Linked DNA regions of Homo sapiens. The protein of the gene in region 1 purifies or fractionates together with the protein of each later gene. This does not show direct contact. Each region holds a gene or a part of one and is shown in the gene's direction. Other genes may lie near its edges.

What was found.
Region 2: the proteins of GTF2H2C (region 1) and PTS purify together in Homo sapiens (affinity purification with mass spectrometry; 3 studies listed by BioGRID and IntAct, with this or other methods). This does not show direct contact.
Region 3: the proteins of GTF2H2C (region 1) and GALC purify together in Homo sapiens (affinity purification with mass spectrometry; 3 studies listed by BioGRID and IntAct, with this or other methods). This does not show direct contact.

The regions. Positions count from the first base shown.
Region 1 is NC_000005.10:69,577,167-69,584,273, forward strand, and holds part of GTF2H2C (general transcription factor IIH subunit 2-like protein), read left to right. Parts: intron 1-1,545; coding exon 1,546-1,636; intron 1,637-1,854; coding exon 1,855-1,942; intron 1,943-2,590; coding exon 2,591-2,698; intron 2,699-5,199; coding exon 5,200-5,263; intron 5,264-7,107. UniProt on the Homo sapiens protein: Component of the core-TFIIH basal transcription factor involved in nucleotide excision repair (NER) of DNA and, when complexed to CAK, in RNA transcription by RNA polymerase II.
Region 2 is NC_000011.10:112,221,768-112,229,492, forward strand, and holds the start of PTS (6-pyruvoyl tetrahydrobiopterin synthase), read left to right. Parts: upstream 1-4,660; 5' UTR 4,661-4,676; coding exon 4,677-4,759; intron 4,760-6,826; coding exon 6,827-6,906; intron 6,907-7,725. UniProt on the Homo sapiens protein: Involved in the biosynthesis of tetrahydrobiopterin, an essential cofactor of aromatic amino acid hydroxylases. Catalyzes the transformation of 7,8-dihydroneopterin triphosphate into 6-pyruvoyl tetrahydropterin.
Region 3 is NC_000014.9:87,990,140-87,997,864, reverse strand, and holds the start of GALC (galactocerebrosidase isoform a precursor), read left to right. Parts: upstream 1-4,682; 5' UTR 4,683-4,700; coding exon 4,701-4,895; intron 4,896-5,010; exon of another isoform or gene 5,011-5,534; coding exon of another isoform or gene 5,535-5,561; exon of another isoform or gene 5,562-6,768; intron 6,769-7,725. UniProt on the Homo sapiens protein: Hydrolyzes the galactose ester bonds of glycolipids such as galactosylceramide and galactosylsphingosine.

The DNA.
Region 1 (7,107 bases):
CCATGTAACAAACTACTTTGTCTTATTTTAAGAAATTGCCATAGCCACCTCACCCTTCAGAAAGCACCACTCTGATCAGTCAGCAGCCATCAATATCAAGGCAAGACTCTCCTTCAACAAAAAGATATTATTCACTGACAGTTCAGTCGATTTTTAGCAATAAAGTATTTTTCATAAAGGTGTGTACTTTTTTTTTTAGATATAATGCTGTTGCACACTTACTAGACTACAGTATAGTGTAAACAGAACTTTTCTTTTTCTTTCTTTTTTTTTTTTTGAGACGGAGTCTCGCTCTGTCGCCCAGGCTGGAGTGCAGTGGCGCAATCTTGGCTCACTGTAAGCTCCGCCTCCTGGGTTCACACCATTCTCCTGCCACCACGTCCGGCTCATTTTTTTGTATTTTTAGTAGAGACGGGGTTTCACCGTGTTAGCCAGGATGGTCTCGATCTCCTGACCTCGTGATGTGCCCGCTTCAGCCTCCCAAAGTGCTGGGAATACAGGCGTGAGTCACCATCCCTGGCCGTAAACAGAACTTTTATATACACTAGGAAACCTGAAAGTTCATGTGACTTGCTTTATTGCAAATATTTATTGTGATATTTGCTTTATTGCTGCGGTCTGGAATCCAACCCTGCAGTATCTCCAAGGTATGCCTGTATAGGGAAAAACATGGTATAATCAGCCCTCTGAATCCTGGGAATTCGATCAACCACGCATCAAAAATTTTTGGAAAAAAATTGTACCTGTACTGAACAAATAGACATTTTTTCTTGCCATTATCCCCTAAATAATAGAGGATAACAATTACTTACATAGTATACATTGTATTAGGTATTATCAATAATCTAGAGATGACTTAAAATATATGGGAGGATGTACATAGGTTATATGCAAATACTACGCCCTTTTGTATCTGGGACTTGAACATCTGCAGATTTTGGTATCCATAGGAGGGCCTGAAATCAATCCCCCAAGGATACCGAAGAACGACTGTATATATAGGGTTCAGTACTATCCTTGATTTCAGGTATCCACTGGGGGTCTTGGAATGTATCCTCTGCAGATAAGAGGGGACTACTATAGTCTTTGAGAAAGAAGTGTGTGTTACTGTTTTGAAGCCACATCTCTGCACTTTAAAGCTGATCCATATGATATTGCCACATTTTAGTTTAAAGTTTATCCATATATTGTTGTATTTTTTATTGTATACTCTAGACTTTGTATGAAACAAACCTACTAGAATGTAAGCTTAATGATGTCGGGAACATTGTCAGTCTTGTTTATCACTCTACCCCCAGAACTTGAGAGTACTTGGTAAATATTAAATGAATCAATTAACAATTTTTTGAAGTGCATAGCTCATTTTAGAAAAATTTGCATTAAAGTGTTTAAAATATACTCACAACCTTTCTTTGCATTGTTGAAACAAATGAGATATTCTATAGTCTAAATGTGTAATCCTATGTTTACTGTTCTTTCTGGGTAAATTTTTTGGTAGTATAATTTGTTGTACCTAATTGGAGTGTATTTTATCTTTCTTTTAAGACACATGCCTGGACATACAAGTCGAGAAGTACTAATCATCTTTAGCAGCCTTACAACTTGCGATCCATCTAATATTTATGATCTAATCAAGGTAGACCAAAAAATCAAAACCAAAGTTATAACTGTAAAGAGAATTCTGTAGCAAATTGATTTATATATATATGTATTTTTGTATGTGTGATTCATCTTTGTGTTAGATGTATTGAATTTATTACTAGTTTTCAGAGCATTCTTTATTTTTCAAATACATTAAATCTTAAATGTTTTTCTTCTTTCCTAAAACTATCTATCTACTTGGATTTTATGAAGACCCTAAAGGCAGCTAAAATTAGAGTATCTGTTATTGGATTGTCTGCAGAAGTTCGCGTTTGCACTGTACTTGCTCGTGAAACTGGTGGTATATATATAATTTATTTAATATTTGCTTATAATTACTGTGTAGGAAATAATTTATTAATTAAATTAGGATGTTTTAATCTGTTCTGAGCTACTAAACTTAAAGTAGTCTAAAATATGGGCAGTCATCTTAAATATATCATTGATTCCATAAGAAATCATCTCCAAATGCAAAGAGTTTTCAGTACTTATGTCAGTATTTAGAGGAGGTATTATAACTCTTGGAAAGCTGGAAATTTTACTGTATGTAATTCTTTATAAAGATTTTATAACTTGTCTTTAATTAAATTGTAATTACAGGCCAGGCATGATAGCTCATGCCTGTAATCTCAACATTTTGGTAGGCCAAGGCAGGAGAATCACTTGAGGCCAGAAGTTTGAGATCAGTCTGGTTAACATAGTGAGACCTGTCTCTATTTATATGTTAAAATAATAATAATAGTAATAATAATCAATTGTAATTATAGTTATTCCTAGAGAAGTTGATTTAGATATATTACTTAAATAAGGTTTTAAAAGTGATAATTTAGCTAAAATCATTATTTTAAAAATGTACATTTTCAGATGATACAACTTTTACAGAATTACATAGAACGTACAGTTCGTTATGTCTATGAAGGTGTTTTTTTTTCCCTTTTCATCTTGTTAGGCACGTACCATGTTATTTTAGATGAAAGCCATTACAAAGAGTTGCTCACACATCATCTTAGTCCTCCTCCTGCTAGCTCAAGTTCTGAATGCTCACTTATTCGTATGGGTAAGTGTTTTTATGTTTTTAAAAAATACATATCTAGGCTCTCTATTTTCATTTGCACAAGTTATTTTAATATTTAAGAATTTTTAAAGAAAAAATATGCTTGTTGAAGCAATTTTGGAAAGTACAGAGAAGTGGAAAAAAAAAATTAAAACTACCAGTAGTCCTGTCACCCAGAAAATACTGTTGGCTTTCTTTATTTTTAAGGCTAGAAAGGTATAAACTGTGTTTATAGAAAAATACTTATATTAAGCCGGGCTCGGTGGCTCACACCTGTAATCCCAGCACTTTGGGAGGCCGAGGTGGGCGGATCTTGAGGTCAGGAGATCGAGACCATCCTGGCTAACACGGTGAAACCCCATCTCTACTAAAAATACAAAAAATTAGCCAGGCGTGGTGGCGGGCGCCTGTAATCCCAGCTCCTCGGGAGGCTGAGGCAGGAGAATGGCATGAACCCGGGAGGCAGAGCTGGCAATGAGCCGAGATCACACCACTGCACTCTAGCCTGGGCGACAGAGCGAGACTCTGTCTCAAAAAAGAAAACAAAAGAAAAACACTTATATTAAAAATTTTTTAAAATAAGCTACAAAGGCCGGGCGTGGTGGCTCATGCCTGTAATCCTAGCACTTTGGGAGGCCGAGGCTAGCGGATCACCTGAGGTCAGGAGTTTGAGACCACCCTAGCCAACATGGCGAAACCCTGTCTCTACTAAAAATTACCAAAAAATGGCTGGGCATGGTGGCAGACATCTGTAATCCCAGCTACTCAGGAGGTTGAGACAGGAGAATTGCCTGAACTCAGGAAACGGAGGTTGCCATGAGCTGAGATTGCGCCACTGCACTCCAGTCTGGGTGACAGAGCAAGACTCTGTCTCAAAAAAATAAAATAAAATAAAAATAAAATAAGCTACAAAATTCTCTGTACTGGATGATCAAAGCTGTGTAATACAAACTGTGCAAAGACAAAGCTTGCAGGGAAGTACACCAAATTGCTCAAAGGAGGGGAAATTATTGGTTTTGGATCACTTTTTTTTTTCTTTTTTTTTTTGAGATGGAGTCTCATTCTATTTCCTAGGCTGGAAGTGCAGTGGTGCGATCTCAGCTCACACTGCAACCTCCGCTTCCCAGGTTCAAGCAATTCTCCTGCCTCAGCCTCCCGAGTAGCTGGGATTACAGGCGGGCACCACCATGCCCAGCTAATTTTTGTATTTTTAGTAGAGACGGGGTTTCACCATGTTGGCCAGGCTTGTCTTGAACTTCTGACCTCATGATCCGCCCGCCTCGGCCTCCCAGAGTGCTGGGATTACAGGCTTGAGCCACTGTGCCCGGCCTTGGATCACTTTTTTAAAATGTTATTTTCTTCTATTTTACAAAAATGTTACAATGAAAATTTATTACATTTAGATTGAAAAAAGTATAACTTTTAATAGAAAAATAATCTCCTTATTTAATATGTATGTTTTTAAATGTTAATGAAATAAAATGCTTTTCTACTTTTGGCCTTTTATATTACCAGTCGACCTCTCTTTTCCACGGTCTTCTCATGTGTTTAATGATGTCAGTAACTATCAACCTTATTGTGTGTTTCAAGGATTGAGTTAATACAGATGATGCGTTTAGAATAATGCTTGATGTAAACATTCAATATATTTTAGATCTTATGTTTGGCTAATCTTTTTGATTTACTGATATATTTTCTTATTTCATTTTAAAGTTATTTAAATTTATAATTTATTTATTAGAGTCCTTTAGGAATGTTAACCCTTCTCAGTCACCCGATGCAAATATTTTTCTTGTTGGTTATTTGCCTTTACTTTTATTTATTTGTTTTGATATGTAGATACATTTACATTTTTTATGTAATATATCTTTTTAAAAATGGTTTCTGCTTTTCCTGAACATGTTTTCAGAATTTAAAATTGTATATGGAAAACAAATTACATGAAAGATTTGAGCATTTCAAAATTTTAAACATAAAAGCATAAACGTAGATAAAATGAAGGTGTACTATGATATCTTCAGTTTTATCAGAAATGATGTAAAAATTACAACCTCTTTAAAAAGTAGTGTTAATCATTAAGTTAGAAAATATATAGCTGGGCATGGTGGCAGATGCCTGTAATCCCAGCTACATGGGAAGGTGAGGTGGGAGAATCGCTTGAACCCAGGCAGTGGAGGATGCAGTGAGCCAAGATCATGCCACTGCACCCCAGCCTGGGTGACAGAACAAGACTCCATCTCAAGAAAAAAAAAAAAGAAAAATATATATATGAACTTCAGAATCTGAGGTCATATATAGACAGGTCTTTCCCCCGTTTCCTCTACTTTTTCTTGTAGCTTGGAATTAGTCAGTTTCATCATGCTATAATAAGCTTATCTGAAAGGCAGTAAAGTGATATTTTGTACAACTTCATTGGCTTTTTGAGAAGAACATTTTTAGGTTCTTAGTCCTAGAATTCTGCTGTTTGCTTGGAAAAAGAAAGTAATACATTTTCTTCTATGAAGGATTTCCTCAGCACACCATTGCTTCTTTATCTGACCAGGATGCAAAACCCTCTTTCAGCATGGCGTAAGTAAAGACCTTGAAAATATCAGTAATAATGTTTTTACATTTTTAATTCCTTCTTTTAAGTTATAAATTCAAAAGATAGGCAATGAAGACTATCTCTATATACTTGTATGGAGTGATCTTCAGGATAAATTACTAAGTAAAACAGTAGTTTGAGAGAATTTTGTAGTATGCTGCTAATCACCTAAGAAGAAAGTAGAGATGTAAGTGGATGTATATACTTGTTTATGTTAATAATAAAAACAATAGTATGGAAATAATAAAAACTTAAAAGGGGTGGAGGGGGAAATTTTTTTTTTTAATGTTTACCTCAGTGAGTGTGTAGGGAAAAGCAAAGGGTTAGACCCTAGACTTTTCTGAATGCATCACTTAATGATAGGGACACATTCTGAGAAATGCGTCATTAGGTGATACCATCATTGTGCAAACATCACAGAGTGCACTTACACAAACCTAGATAGTGTAGCCTACTAACATCGCAGTTATATAGTATAGCCTATTGCTCCTAGGCCGCACACCTGTACAGCATATTGTGTACTGAATAATGTAGGCAGTTGTAATGTAACACCTAGTGTTTGTTTAACTAAACACAGAAAAGGTACAACTAAAATGTATTATTTTATGGGACCACTGTCATATATGTGGTTCATCACTGACCAAAATGTTATATAGAATATTACTGTACCTTGTTTTAACTTCAGAGCTTTGTATTTTACATAATTATAAAACAAAATTAAATTTAAGAGAGTAATTCTTAAAAATCACAAACAAGATTTCTGCCTCCAGCCAAAAAGCTGTAACAGGGACTAGATTTACCCTCCTGTCAAAAAAAGCAGACAAAATATATAAAACAGTGGTTTTCAGACGTTGGACAGCAAGCCTTGCTGATAATGATCCCTGAAAGAAAGGAAACAAATGAGATGGGCCCTAAGAGCACTCCACCTTACTGCCTGGATGGAATTTCCAGGCTGCACACAGAGGCTGGAGATGTTGTTGAGTTGAAGAAACAAAGTTCATCTTTCAAGGAGGCTGAGATGGCGATAATTTTGCAGGTCAGAGTACTGGAGAGGAAAGATCTGCACAGAGAGAACTCTCTGGGGAGCTGCATAGACTTGCTCATGAGTCAGCAGCTGAGCGTTGATCAGCCCTTTTGTGTGAGGAGACTACTGGAAGTCAGGGAAAAAATCACTGGAAAGCAGCAGACAGAACAGTTTCCAGAGCTCACACAGAGAACATTCATGTTCTCACCAGTCTGTATGGAAATACCTCTTAACATGACAGGCATTGAATAGAGTCCACAGTAATGGGATCAAATTAATTCTATCACAAGAACTGGAACCAGAGGCAAAAAGAAAAGAAAAGAAAAGAAAAATCTAGACTAACAGCTGTTCTAGACCAGCCTACCAAAGTTTAAAAGCAAATTTTGAAGAGATTAAACTATTTCCAAGTTAATGAAGTATATTTCAGAACAAACCCTTAAATATTTGAGGGAATACAAAAAAAAAGAAAAAGAAAAAATCCAGCCCCCAAAACAAAGCAAAATTCACAATGTCTGGCAAAGCAAAATTCATAGTCCCTGGCAGAAATTACCAGGGATGCAAAGGAAAATATGACCCATAAAATGGAGAAAAATCACAGAATGGAAACATACCCAGAAATAACCCAGTTGGTAGAATTAATAGACAAAGGGTTGGGTGCGGTAGCTCATGCCTGTAATGCTAGCACTTTGGGAGGCTCAGGTGGGCAGATCACTTGAGCCCAGGAGTTCGAGATCAGCACAGCCAACATGGCGAAACCCATCTCTACTAAAAACACAAAAATTAGCCAGGCCTGGTGGCACACGC
Region 2 (7,725 bases), on another chromosome or scaffold:
CCTTATGGGATCTTTTTTTTGGTGGGGGGGCTTGGGGGTATTTATTAAGTGATGCTTTAGTCTCAGTCTCTGCCAGCAACTGGGGTGTGGGTTGACTCCACTCGCCCCAGGATTTCCCAGACTTGCTGTTTTAGTGGAGAGAGGCAGGAAGCCAACTATCCTCTAAGCCCCAGCTTGGGAAGCTAGGCTAGTACTGGGGTGGGGGCAGCAGAGCTGAGACCCTCCACCCCCACCCCCAGCCCCCAGCCTCCCAGCCTGAGGGGGAGGAGCTGAGGCAATTTTGGCCGCAGCCTCCCACACACAGCCCTGCCCTTGGTGCGCCATTCACTGCCCTGAGTTATTCATGATCTCTGCTCCCACATATTCACCTTGACACTCCAAAAGCCAGCCCCACACCCAGCCCCTTCAGGTCTTTAGTCCTGGGGAGAGCAAAAGGAGGGACAGGGGCCCTTTGACTGAGCAGCTTCAAGGGGCCTCTCCTTTCTGTTACCCACTGAATGCCAGCCCCTTGTCTTCAGCCCTCCCTTAGATAGGAAGGAGGGTGGTGGCCTCAGACTGCACCCCCTTTCTTCTTCTTCTCTTCCTGGCATCCCATTCTGTCCCAGCACAGCAGCCAAGAGCACAAAGCACAGCACCTGTGAGGCTGGTGGGCACAGGAGCCCGTGCTGGCACAGGCCAAACTGCCTGCAGCCCTAGGTGGGGCCTGCTCCTGCCCTAGAAGCTAGACAGAGGGAGACAGAAAGCAGAAGTGGGGCAATGGGATGTGCGGCCCCTGTGGCAGGAGGAGGAGCACACGAACCCTGACCCTGCTTCTTGGTGCAGGCCACTCCAGGCCTTGCTTCTGTAAGAGACTCTGTGGCTGGCTCCAGAGCTGCCCGGCCCCCATAAAGGGGGCTGAAAGGAGGATGGGTGGTCCTTGAGGAGGGGAAGGGTCTGCAGAGAATCGCTCAGACACCAGGTATTACCCAGCTATTCCCCCAAGACCTGGAGGGTCCAAACTCCTGGCCCCAACCACCTGCATCTTGGGTGAGGAAGAAGGGCCTCTTCTGCTGTTCCTTCCCCTCAGAGATCCAAGAACCCACTCCAGTGAAATGCAGGTACCCATGCCTGCCACCTGCCCCTGGAGACAGCAGGGGAGTTGAGGCAGGAAGGCTGGCCAGGGGCCCTTATGGGATCTTTTAGTAGAAGCTAGCCTTCTGAGACAACGCAGCCAAGCACAAGCCAGTAAATGTTGCAAGAGTGAAGGGAGAACTATACCTAAATGGCTGTTGATCTCAAGGCACTGAAAGCTAAGTTAAGAGGAATGTTATTTGCTTATTGGTTAGTGTGTTAGTCTGCTAGGGCTGCCATAACAAAGTACCACAGAGGTCTTAACAGAAATGAATTGTCTCACAATTCTGGAAGCTAGAAGTCTGAAATCAAAGTTGGTTTTTTCCTTCTGAGGGCTTTGAAGAAAGATCTGTTCCAGTTCTCTCTCCTGGGCTTGGAGATGGTGTTGTCTGTGTCTTCACATGATCTTCCCTCTGTATGTGTCAGTTTTTGAGTCCAAGTTTCCCCTTTCTACAAGAACATTAGTCATGTTGGATTAGGTCCCATCCTAAACACCTCATCTCAATACGTGTGCAACAATCCTATTTCCAAACAGGTTAAACTTCAACTCTGCAAATGCAGTGAAATATTTTACTAAAACAAACAAGTATTATTAATAAAAATAATTTTGCAGAAATTTCTCTTACTCTTTCACTTTATTTTGATTCTTTAAGCTGGTTTTGGAATGAGCAACTATTTGTGTAACCACTGACTGTTAGAGAGTATTTATCACTGAGGCAGTCCATACCTGGGAAATAATGTTTCTGTTCTGAGTGATCTCGCAATAGTAATTCACTTATCTGTGGCTGTATTTTCTTATCTGTAAAGTGAAAGTATTGAACTAAACAGTCTCTATCTCGAAAATCTCTAAATGTTATTTGAAGTTTTTTCTTTACAGTACAATGGGGTAGATGAGACAAACATCTGAAAATGTATGGAGAGTGTTTGCTAAATAACCTGTTAGTAGTTTAATGCAGAACAAACAGAATATATAGCTGTAAATAGGAGATATTTGAGGGAAATCACCATTTGAGCTTATTTCTATCGCCCCCATGATTTTATCTTTCTTTTTACAGGAAACTTTTCCAAGCCTGTTATTAATCAGTGACTTGTCCTGCTTTTCATCATATACAGTGATGATTTTTCTCATATAGAGTGGAGCTGTCCTCTCCAGTACCTGGAACAATGCCAGCCACATAGTAGATGCCCAATAAATATTTAGTGAAAGAGTGAATGGAAGCAAGAGGTGACATGATTCTGGGAACTGTGTGTAGTTTGGTTACTCTTGTGAGTAGATGTGAGGAAACAAGATCCTTTCACTCTCAATGTGTCTACACTGGCAGAAGAATTGCTAATATGTGTTTAGGGGTGTCTGTATTCACACTATGCCAACCCAGAGTAATAAATGGGTCCATACATGCTTGTGGATAAGAATGGCTTTAGAATTTCCCTTAGTAAGGATCATTACACAACAGTCCAAAGGACTGTTGTCACGTGGTCCTATTTGTGCTCTCAAATTCTTGCTCTTTAAAAATTTTTTTTTAAAGAAACGGTATTAATCCTAAGCAAAAAGAACAAAGCTGGAGGCATCACGCTACCTGACTTCGAACTATACTACAAGCCTACAGTAACAAAAACAGCATGGTATGGGTACCAAAACAGATATATACACCAATGGAACACAACAGAGGCCTCAGAAATAACACCACACATCTACAACCATCTGATCTTAGACAAACCTGATAAAAACAAGAAATGGGGAAAGGATTCCCTATTAAATAAATGGTGCTGGGAAAACTGGCTAGCCATATGTAGAAAGCTGAAACTGGATCCCTTCCTTACACCTTACACAAAAATTAACTCAAGATGGATTAAAGACTTAAATATCAGACCGAAAACCATAAAAACCCTAGAAGAAAGCCTAGGCAATGCCATTCAGGACATAGGCATGGGCAAGGACTTCATGACTACAACACCAAAAGCAATGGCAACAAAAGCCAAAATAGACAAAAGGGATCTAATTAAACTAAAGAGCTTCTGTACGGCAAAAGAATCTACCATCAGAGTGAACAGGCAACCTACAGAATGGGAGAAAATTTTTGCAATCTACCCATCTGACAAAGGGCTAATATCCAGAATCTACAAAGAACTTAAACAAATTTATAAGAAAAAAAATCAAACAACCCCATCAAAAAGTGGGCAAAGCATATGAACAGACACTTCTCAAAAGAAGACATTTCTGCAGCCAACAGACACATGAAAAAATGCTCATCATCACTGGCCATCAGAGAAATGCCAATCAAAACCACAATGAGATACCATTTCACACCAGTTAGAATGGCGATCATTAAAAAGTTGGGAAACAACAGATGTTGGAGAGGATGTGGAGAAATAGGAATGCTTTTACACTGTTGGTGGGAGTGTAAATGAGTTCAACCATTGTGGAAGACAGTGTGACGATTCCTCAAGGATCTAGAACTAGAAATATCATTTGACCCAGCCATCCCATTACTGGGTATATACCCAAAGGATTATAAATCATGCTACTTTAAAGACACATGCACCTGTATGTTTATTGTGGCACTATTCACAATTGCAAAGACTTGGAACCAACCCAAATGTCCATTAATGATAGACTGGATTAAGAAAATGTGGCACATGTACACCATGGAATATTATGCAGCCATAAAAACGATGAATTCATGTCCTTTGCAGGGACATGGATGAAGCTGGAAACCATCATTCTCAGCAAACTATCACAAGGACAGAAAACCAAACACTGCATGTTCTCACCCATAGGTGGGAATCAAACAATGAGAACACATGGACACAGGGTGGGGAACATCACACACCGGTGCCTGTCAGGGAGTAGGGGGCTGGGGGAGGGATAGCATTAGGAGAAATACCTAATGTAAATGACGAGTTGATGGGTGCAGCAAACCAACATAACACATGAATACCTATGTAACAAACCTGCACGTTGTGCACATGTACCCTAGAACTTAAAGTATAATAATAATTAAAAAGAAAAAAGAAAAAGAGAAACGAGGGTCTTGCTCTATTGCCCAGGTTGGACTCCTGGGCTGAAGTGATCCCTCTCCTTCTCAATAGCTGGGGCTACAGGAGTGCGTCACCACGCCCGCCTGGCTCAATTCCTGCTCCTTTTGGTCTATAAAGCGGACTGTGGCCCTGGGGTTCATCCGATTGAGTCACCAGTCACTGGAGCTTTACAGGAGAGAGTGGGAGAGGAGGCTCAGAGAGGTCACTCAGGACCCAAAGTGTGCCCAGACGGGCCCTAACTACGTGGCGTGACCTCAGGCGGGGCAAACAGATCAAGGACACAGGGTCCCCACCCACCCTGACCACTCCAGGGTATGCTTAGGTATCCCAAATCTTGCTCTCCGAAGAGATTCAGATAGCGAGAGACACCCTTAACTGTCTCCCGAGGCCGGGATTGGCCAGAGCGGAAGCGGAGACGCACTTCCTAGGGGCGCGTCTGGCACGCACTGCGCAGCCGCGGTGGGAGGAGGCACCGGCCGCGCGGCGGGAGGAGGTGCCGGCCGAGCACCGCAGACAGCGCCGGGAAGATGAGCACGGAAGGTGGTGGCCGTCGCTGCCAGGCACAAGTGTCCCGCCGCATCTCCTTCAGCGCGAGCCACCGATTGTACAGGTAGGGTGTGCACACAGGTACAGCGGCGGGCGGTGGGCGCCGGGCCCCGGAACGTCACCGGGGCGGGGCCGGCGGGCGTGCTGACGTCGGGCCCGGGAGGGGCGCGGGGGCTGCTGGGGCGACGCGCGCTGGTCGGCTTCGTGGGGCTTCGGACGGCCTCCAGCATCCTGATGGGGGCTGGAGTGTCCCCAGCCCTGGAGGGGTGGGGGAGCTTGATGGTTAACGGAGCCGACTGCGGAGGGCGATGGCCCACGTCTGGGTGCGGGGCCCACACCCGGTTCTGCGACTCGAAGAAACGTCTCTGCCCCTAGGAGTCCCTTGGTGTAGACCACAGGGTTGCTGTGAAACTCAGCAGTGTTAAACTCGCCTATGTTACACAGTACCTGGCGCGGCGTAGACACTCAGTAAATGTTAGCTAATCTTGTATGCCAGGAGCATTGGCCACCATATCTAATGTAATTACAAGGCAAATTTTAGCCCCTTTTTTACCAAAGACTGGATGAACCCAGTCCCTGGTGGTCTAGTGGCTAGGAGAAAAAAAAAAAAAAATGAGCCCAGACGTTCAGTTTCCGAAGCAGCATAGTTGGGATTTGAATCCCGATCATACATACTGCTTGCATGCACTGACGAGTTGATTTTGAGGAATTTTACCACGCACTAACCAGCTCCACCCTCTGGCCCTCCGTATCGTCGTCTGTGAAATGAGGATGACCATCGCTATCTAACAGGATTCATCCCTCCATTCGCTAAACCAGGTTTTGTTTCGTGCTTGTCAGGGCTTGTGCTAGGTAACGGATGCATCAGGGATCTTGTATGGGGTTTCCAATCTGGCCTATTTTGTGGAGGGTACACTGAGAAAATTTTGTGCAAAAGACTTTAGCACTCTAAATACAAGAAGTGGCTGAGCAGGAGAAAGTGGGGGTGTGTTATTCCATTTTGCATTGCCACAAAGGAATACTGAGACTGGTATTTTATAAAGAAAAGAGGTTTATTTGGTTCTGCAGGCTGTACAAGAAGCATGGCACCAGCATCTGCTTCTGTTGAGGCCTCAGGGACCTTCCACTCATGGTGGAAGGCGAAGGGCGAGCAAGCAGGCAACTCACAGGGCAAGTGAGGGAGCAAGAGAGAGGAGAGGAGGTGCCAGGCTTTTTTTAACAACCAGCTCGCCCATTGACTAATAGAGCGAGAACTCACTCATTGCTTCAGGGAGGGCACCAAGCCATTCATAAGGGATCCACTTCCATGAGCCAAACATCTCCCACTAGGCCCCATCTCCAACACTGGGGATCACATTTCAACATGACAATTGGAGGGGACAAACATCCAAACTACATTGGGGGGAATAATAAAGAGGATCTCAAAAAAAAGGGGTTGTATAATAAGCTTAAACACCTGAGGGTGGTAAGGTCTCATAGACGATGCGAAATTGAATGGATGGGTATAAGTATAAACATTAAGCAATTTGTTTTCTGTCTGAGACGACAGCCAAAGATTGTAATTTTAAAAATTCACCTGCTTGGAATATTCCTCAACAGATTGGTAAAGTTCTCATGAGGCAGTAGTTGAGACATAGTATAAAGCAAGATTGCTAAATAGGAGACTTACCAGGTCATGTAATTTTTTTAAATTATTTTTTCTGGATGAGTAGTTTAGCTTCTGAGAGAAATGAGATAGTAAGCCACTTTGCGGATCACCATCTATGTTTATCATTATATGCTGTTATTTCATTCAGCACTTGCCTGTTACATTGTAGGCACTCAGTAATGTTGAATTGAAAAGTGGAAGGCCCATGAGCAGATCAGTTGCTGTGGAACAAGGGGGTTGAAGTTAAGGTTTGTTTGTGCTAATTTGTATGGTACAATCTTCTAATTAGGGAATATGCCATGGTTTGTGACGTATACGTAAGTAATAAAATCAACATGATTTCTGACTCTCCCTTTGGTGAGCTAAAGTAATAAATTGGGAAACTTTTCAAAGATCAGTACAAATAATAAATATAAGGAACAGAGAAGGGGGTTTGAATGTGATACTTGTGTCATGCTGACTTTTTTTTTTTTTTTTGGTCAGTAAATTTCTAAGTGATGAAGAAAACTTGAAACTGTTTGGGAAATGCAACAATCCAAATGGCCATGGGCACAATTATAAAGGTGAGAGAAAAACTGATGACATTTCAGCCCTTCAATAAGGATGAAAGAGTATTCAGCAAATGTAGACATAAAGAATGGGAAAACTTACGGACACAGTGTGAATGCTTTGAGCCTTGAATGAGAAATTAAATGGGAGTTCAGAATGAAAGGATCTGTTGTCTTGGTTGGGTGTGTGTTAAGTTTTACCTTGCAATGTCAACTCTTACAAACAGTCCAAAACAATGAATGGTTTAAAGCATTTTTCTTTGTCCTAGAGTACACAACAAGTTTCTTTCTGATTAGGTATGGCCAAGGCTAATGTTAAAATTAGATTTTATTCTTTGAGTAAATAATGACTGACAAAAGGGGAATGTTGCCTAGGAATGTAATGTATGGCAGAAAAATAGGTTTGGTCTAAAGCTTTGCCAGCAGTGTTCGAAGAAAGTAGGTAATTTGTTCAAGGATAAGAGACTTGATTCTTTGAGGTACAGCCTGCCTTAAAAAACAGGTACATAAGTCGTAGAGTATAAAACAGTATGTGGTGTGGTGGCATAAAAAAAAACAGACAAGGTGTCAGGAGATTAGGATTACTGGTTTAGCTACAGCCTCTTCCTTAATCTATGGTATCTCAGTCTCAGTGTACTCACTTACATGTAATATCTAATGGTATTTGTACAGAACTAAAATACATAAATTCATAAAAGTTATTAATGTGTAAAGCACTGATAAAGTTTTTTTTTGTTGTTGTTGTTTTTTTTTTTGAGATGGAGTTCCACTCTTTTTGCCCAGGCTGGAATGGTGTGATCTCCCGTCACTACAACCTCCACCTCCCAGGTTCGA
Region 3 (7,725 bases), on another chromosome or scaffold:
TACTGAAAGGAATATAAGTCATTCTCCCATAAAGACACATGCAAGTGGATGGTCATTTCAGCACTATTTGCAATAGCAAAGCCATGGAATCAACCTAAATCTCCATCAGTGGTCTATTAATGGATAAAGAAAATGTGTTACATATACAACCTGGAATACCATGCAGCTATAAAAAAGAATGACAGGCCAGGTGCTGTGGCTCAGGCCTGTAATCCCAGCACTTTGGAAAGCCGAGGCGGGCAGATCACGAGGTCAGGAGTTCGAGACCAGCCTGACCAACATGGTGAAACCCCGTCTCTATTAAAAATACAAAAATTAGCCAGGTGTGGTGGCACACCCTGTAATCCCAGCTACTCAGGAGGCTGAGTCAGGAGAATCGCTTGAACCTGGGAGGCAGAGATTGCAGTGAGCCGAGATCGCACCACTGCACTCTAGCCTGGATGACAGAGCAAGACTCTGTCTCAAAAAAAAAAAAAAAAAAAAAAAAAAGAATGAGATCATGTTCTTTGTAGCAACATGAATGGAGCTGGAGGCCATTACCCTAAGAAGACTAACACAGGAATAGAAAACCAAATACTGCATATTCTCACTTATAAGACGGAGCTGAACATCGAGTACATATGGACACAAACAACAACAAAACAACAGGCACTGGGGCCGACTTAAGGGTGGAGGATGGGGGATGGGGAAGGATCAAAAAACTACCTATTGAGTACTATGCTTATTACCTGGGTAATGAAATAATCTGTACATCAACCCTAGGACATGCAATTTACCTTTGTAACAAACCTGCACATGCACCCTGAACCTAAAATAAAAGGTAAAAAATATAGCAGATGTTACAGGACAGTTCAAGAAAACACTCCACACTCTTATGTCCCAGGGGATTCCTACTTTAAGAAACGTTTCCAACTCCTTTTGTAAATAATTCTTTATTCGTATCCCCTTATGTGACCATTCAGTGATTTGTCTTTTAGTTCAATTCAACTAATATTTATTGAGTACTTAGCACAGTTTGGGCACTGTGCTTAAGACATACAAAGAAGAAATAAACTTGGCCTCTGCCCTGGAATTTCTGACAGCCTAATAGCAAAAACATGGAATCAACCTAAATGCCCATCAATGGTAGACTGAAGGGGAGGTGGACTGATTTATAAAAGTAAAGCCTTTTCCTGAAGTGAGACAACAGACTGCTATCATACCGTTTTATGATAGTCTTGGGGAAATAAAAAAAAAAATCCAGACTGCTATTAGAGTTTATCAATAAATTTTCATTAAAAGGCAAGATCTCTGATCCTTCTCAAGAGACTATTTGATTTTGATCACATTATTTTATTTAGAAAAAGGAGAGATTTGGGGTGGCTGAAGTATAGTTGTGATACTTAGAAACACCTGTTATTTAAGAGAAAAATCATCGTGTTTCCTTTGGCAGCACATTTACAAACACTGGAATGTTACAGAGATCAGTGTGGCCTCTGAGCAAGGATGACATGCAAATTCTTGAAGTGTTTCAGATTAAAAAGACAGAGAGAGAAACACTGTCATTACTTTTTAAACTCATTTAAAATCTGAAAACTGGGACCTTCCTTTCTTACCGTCTTATCTCACTGACCCTGATCCACAGACGCAAGGGAAGCTAAGCATATGATCACTCGTGGGGTAACTGTCATTTTTCTTTATCTCACATCTTGAGCACATTTGAGTGCCGTGCCCAGCACTCCAAGGATTTCTGTCAGCATGTATTTATTGGCCTTTTATTAGAAACTTTCTTACCTCATGTCTGCTCTCATGAATATAGATCAGAAATTAGAAACAAAAAATATTTATCTGGTAAGCAATTTCTTTGGTAACTGAACTAATAGGAACTACTGGGACTTCCTGGAAGTGAGGCTACCTTTTCCATTAGAGTTTATGCTTCCTCTTTTGTAGACTTCACACATTGCTCAAATATTTGTGGCGTGCATTCCAACTACAAGGTGCAATTGAGGGACGAGAAAAGGGAAAACTTAGTTGGGCAGACAGCTAAAGTTGGTCTTTGGTAAAATTCTTTTAAACAGAAAGACAGCCTGAAAAATCAAGCTACAGGCACACATAGAGTGGCCTGGGGAAAACTCAGGCAACAGCTGCCCTGATAAGAAAGGAAGGCCCAACATAGAAGCCTTTTGTTCTTTGTGTGATTAGCAGGTTCCCAGGAAAAAGTTTCTTCCCCTTTTCAGGCACATACATGGTGGGCTCTGTGGGAACTTGCATGGGGGTGGAGAGGGTGATTACCTAGAACCCACAGTTACACAAACAAGAGAAGCTGAACTTTATCCTTACCCAAGACATACCCACAGCTGCACAGATAAGGGGAGCTGCACAGATAGCTTTACAAGTAAGTTACACAAACAGCTACAGAGATGAGAGGAGTTTCTTATAAAAGCTTTTGGATTCAACTGTAAAAGTGGCAAAATGGCAAAGAAAGAAAGCTTTCTTCTTTCATATAATAAACTTTCTCTTCAACCTCACTCTGGTGTCCACACTCCTTAATTCTCTTGGTTGTGAGACAACAAGCTTGGATAACACCTCAGACAACGAGACCACTGACCACTGACCCGTTTCACAATGACGTACTACAGGATGGTGTATGCTGGGTATTCATACATCGTCATGCAACTTCCTAGTTTTATGTGTAAGGTAGTTTCCTCTGTCATCACCTTGGTATTTCCCATCTAGTCACGGTATTAAGTGGGTCTTATGCGCTTGTTAAGAGCTGGTAAGAGAAGCTTAACATTCACTTGATGGAATGGTTACTGTGGCTTGTATCCACAGGAGCTCCAGCTCATGCTTAAAATACTGTGTTAGAACAAATGGATCAGAGTGAATTCTGTAACAGTAAATCCACAGAACTGAAAATTACTGACTTGCATCATAAACTGGTTGCAGTGGCAAGGCAGAGAGTTCAGATTCGTGTTGTACTGGGGAAAGAAGAAACCAAAGAAAATAAGTGGTTCATACACAGGGGACTATTTAACTGATCCAAGCCAGAAGACTACTGAGGGTGAAAGGAGCATTATCAGTAATTATGTTTAGACAAAAGTTGTGACTGTCCTTAGTAAACCAGGATAGACGTAGAGTCAATTCAAAAAGAAAGAAAGAACAAACATATCTAATGTACATTAAGAACCCAGGGATATCGGGTTCTTAATGTGCATATTTATTGGATTGCCCAGAGCTTTGACCTTCAAGTATAATTGAGTTCTTGAAACTTAGATTTAGGTTTGTGGTTAAGGGGCAAAATAATCAGATTCCAAATAGGGTTCTGCAGACAAATCCCACAGGTCCTAAAGTCTCTGGGTCTTTTCCTTGCCATTGTGGTATCTCAGGGGCTTGTGTAGGCAATGATAACCAGTTCCATACTTCTGCTAAGAGAAATTTGGGGATCAGAAAATCTTTCTCTGCAGCTCTTCAGAGTCTCTTTAATTTACTTCAATAACAAGGAAATCAGAAATCTCAGGACAGTGCTGGATGTGGCAGAAATTCAGGGCAATTCACAACTTTCCTACCAATTTAGAGTTACCTGTCTGGAATCACTTCAACTGACAGTGGAAGATAGTTTATAAAATTGTAGGGGAGGCAAAATTTCACCTTCGTCCCTGTAGGGTCCCAGCATGGCCCTAGTATTAAATTGATTTAAGATATTAATAGACTGACAGGAGACAACCACACAAATGTTTATTTTACATAGCACGGGGGCCCTCATTAAAAAAAAAAAAGACCTAAAGCAGCAGTTAAGAGCCAATTGCTTATAGAGTGAAATGGACAAAAAATAGTAGTTGTGAAACATGATAAGGCGAAGGGGCTTGGGGTAAAGAAGCGACTAGAAAGATAGGGATTAACAAATTTTGTTTGGACAGATTTCCCTCGACTTCAACTTTCTGTCCTTGAAGATAACAATGTTATTTTATAGGGAAGACATCTTTCACATGGGAATTTCATCTCCTCCTTTTAAGACACATAATATCCATGACAGTGATCTTGCACCTGCTGTTTTTAAGTGCCTTTAATTTAAAATAGTCAATATGCCACAGCAGCATATTTTGAGGTGGTATATTATTAACTCCTTCAAGGCTAAAAGCTTTGAATATGCCGGGGTAGTTACCAGACTGGAGAACCTTCTCAGCTATTTGCCACTTGTGGAATGCATTCAAATGTACTGAGTGCTTATTAACTTTTCTCTCAGTCCCTCACTCTGCTGCTCTTCTCGCCTCATCTCACATAAGGGAAAACTCAGGCTCCAAAAGCAAAGTGATTCCACCAAGATGACAATGGAATCGGGACCTGGTGTCCAAGCCTGGTCCTCGCACGAGGTAGATACTCCCTGAGATGCTGGGGAAGAGCCATGGTAGGGCCACTCATGGCCCTCTTCCTTTGGCGGACCTTGGAATCCACCTTCCCTGCGTTAAAGTGCTCCACCAGGTGACGCCGGAAGAGAAGCCAGCAGTAAGTACATGTGAAATCCAGTAGCTGACCACAGACACGCGAGCGATAAGAAAAAGCTCGCTGCTTCTTTTCTCAACACTCCGCCAGCTGCGTCAGAGGCCCTTGACCCGCACTCAAAATGGCGGCGGCGGCGTCAGCATCAGCGGCCTCCTGCCCGTATCTATCGTGGCGGCGACGGGACCCGCCTCCCTGGGCGCCGGAGTCATGTGACCCACACAATGGCTGAGTGGCTACTCTCGGCTTCCTGGCAACGCCGAGCGAAAGCTATGACTGCGGCCGCGGGTTCGGCGGGCCGCGCCGCGGTGCCCTTGCTGCTGTGTGCGCTGCTGGCGCCCGGCGGCGCGTACGTGCTCGACGACTCCGACGGGCTGGGCCGGGAGTTCGACGGCATCGGCGCGGTCAGCGGCGGCGGGGTGAGCGGCAAGCTGCGGGGATACGCGGGGGGCGGCAAGAGCCCGCCCCGTGGGGCCAGCCCCACAAGCCCCCGCGGCGTTGCCCTGCGTTTCCACCGGCTCCACTCTCCGCCGCATTCCCCTAGGGTGCCAGTCAGCAGGCGGTTGGGGCGGGCCCGCTGCGGGGCTGGGGCGGGTGCTTTCTCGTTTAACACGAACCAGACAGGCAGTTAGGTTTGAACAAATGAGGATCCGGAGGTCCAGAGAGTATAGGTGCAGAGAGTAAAGTGACAGGTCTAAGTAGTGAAGTAGCCGGGGCTGGAACCCTCGTCCCAGGCAGTGGGGCACAGGCTGTCTTCATCGCGGAGATGGCAGTCGGGGAGCGTCGCTCCAGAAAGGGCCAGGGAGTGCGGGAGCGTCCGTGTGCGAAAGAGAACGCCCCAGTGGGATGCTTTGGCTGTGTCTCTCCCTTTTGGAGGAGTTGGTGGGTGGTGGAGTCGTTAAGTCCCGTGCAGTTGTTAGTGCAGGGTAAGAATGGGCTCCTCCAGAGAGGGTAGCGCCGAATAGGATTTCGTTTGGAGGCAGGACTGGTGCCTCAAGGTCTCTTTAAAAGGAAGATAAGCGAGCGGCCTGAAACTACCGGGTACTCCCTCTGGGCCCATGGGCTTCATGGTGGCCGACCTTTGGGTGAGAAGGTTTTTGTTTTTTGGTTTTGTATCCGAAATTACATCTAGGGCTAATGTTTCTTGAAAATGTTAAGGTTGAACTCGGATTTTTGGGGTTGAGTTGGATGGAGCTTGCATCCTTACATTCAACTCAGAACAAGCTTGAATGCCTGCTGCAAGGATGACCTGGTCTGTAGTGTGACCACAAGATATAACCTTCTGCTAGGGGAAATTTTTTTCCCCCTGGAGTTAGCTGATCCTTTTTGATTTTTATGTTTTCATTCCCTAATTTGCAATCTCTCCAGCCGTGCTGATGTGTATTTCAGGGGAAACCTGTGGGCCGATGAGTTAATGCATTTATTCTTTGCTACTACTATTCTCCTTTTTATGTTTTTGGGCTAAACCTGAAACAGCCAATATTTCATGGAGTGAGGCCCCATCTTTTTTATAGCTTTACTTGTGATACTATATCTAGGGTAAGAGCTTACCGAAAAATGGAAGTCTTTGTTTCCATTAGGTTTATTAAGCCCAGTTTAAAATTACTAAGATGAGAAGAATCATTTCGTAATTCAAAGTAGGAAACTCCTACCTAATCTGATAGAATATACAATTATTAGTATCCCTATATAGTTCATTACTCCTCATAGGAACTCACTAAATAATGAAAATTCTTGCAACATTATATTTGCATACCACTTTAAACTTCTTTGTGGAGTCCTTGGTTCCTAGCCCAGGTTGTGCCAGTAAGTGTTTAGAGTGCTGTCATTTAATCTTCATGTCAGAGAGGGAAAGCGGTATGGTACAGTAAGTAGTTAAGAATGTAGGGCCGGGCACGGTGGCTCACGCCTGTAATCCCAGCACTTCGGGCTTCCGAGGCGGGCGGATCACGAGGTCAGGAGATCAAGACTATCCTGGCTAACACGGTGAAACCCCGTCTCTACTAAAAATACAAAAAATTAGCCAGTCTTGGTAGCACGCGCCTGTAGTCCCAGCTACTCGGGAGGCTGAGGCAGGAGAATCGCTTGAACCCGGGAGGCGGAGGTTGCAGTGAGCCGGGATCACACCACTGCACTCCAGCCTGGGCGACAGAGTGAGACTCCGTTCAAAACACAAACAAACAAAAAAACCCAAAAACCAAACCAAAGCGAAACAAAACAAAAAGAATGTAGACTAAAGAGAAGATTGCCAAGAGTGTCTTCTGGGTTCTGCCACTTCACTGTGTGGCCTTGGTGGGTTATCTATTATAACTCCTCTCTGCCTCACTTTCTTTTTTTGGGATACAGTTATACCTGCATGGTAGGAGCGCCGTGAGGATAGACCTAAAGTACTTAGGATGATGTCTTGCACATTACTAATTTTGGTTAATAACCATTTTCAGGGATTAGGGAGGAGGAAGTTATTTCAAGGCCACTGAATGATGAAATGTCCCCAAGGCTTTTTCCTGGGCCTGTAAACAGTTCCAGGCCTCATTCAGGCAGTGTGGTTAGTAATCCCGTGATTTGCTATTGCTAGATGGTGCATTTTAACATTTGGTTATATTGCCTTTGACTTATGCTGTTGTGTTAGGTGTGGCTATAGGTTTGCAATAACATGATTGGTGTGTTTGCCTAAAGCCGATACTTTCTCTGTTAAATGTGGGAGTGCATAGAGGGCAAAAGAAACCCTAGACAGCAAAACGCACAGTATTAATGGCGTAGCGTAGGACAGGAAGCATTGTTTACCTAGGGTCAAGGATATATTAGTGTGCCTATACAGTGTTCATTTAAAGAGTGCCTATTTTAATATTGGAGCCTCTGCTAGGTTGTAAGCTCTTTGAGAAATATGTATTTTAAAAAATTTGTGTATATAACACTTGCCTTTATTGAGAACTTACTATGTGCCAGGTAATGTGCCAAGTCCTTTACATACATCTAATTTTAGTCTTACAGCAGTTGAATGAGTAAGATAGCCCACTTTACAATAATTTGCCTATGATTACATAGCTTATTAATGATGAAATCAGGATACAAACTCCATTTGACTCAAAGACTCCTATTTATGTTGCCAGTACCAGTGCAACAAAAGACCCATAAAATATTTAATAAGTGTTTATTGAATAACAAAGAATGAGGATACAAACTTGAATAAGATACAGTCCATGTCCTTAAGGAACTAAGAGGTGAGTCAGAAAAATAAAGGAGTGCCGG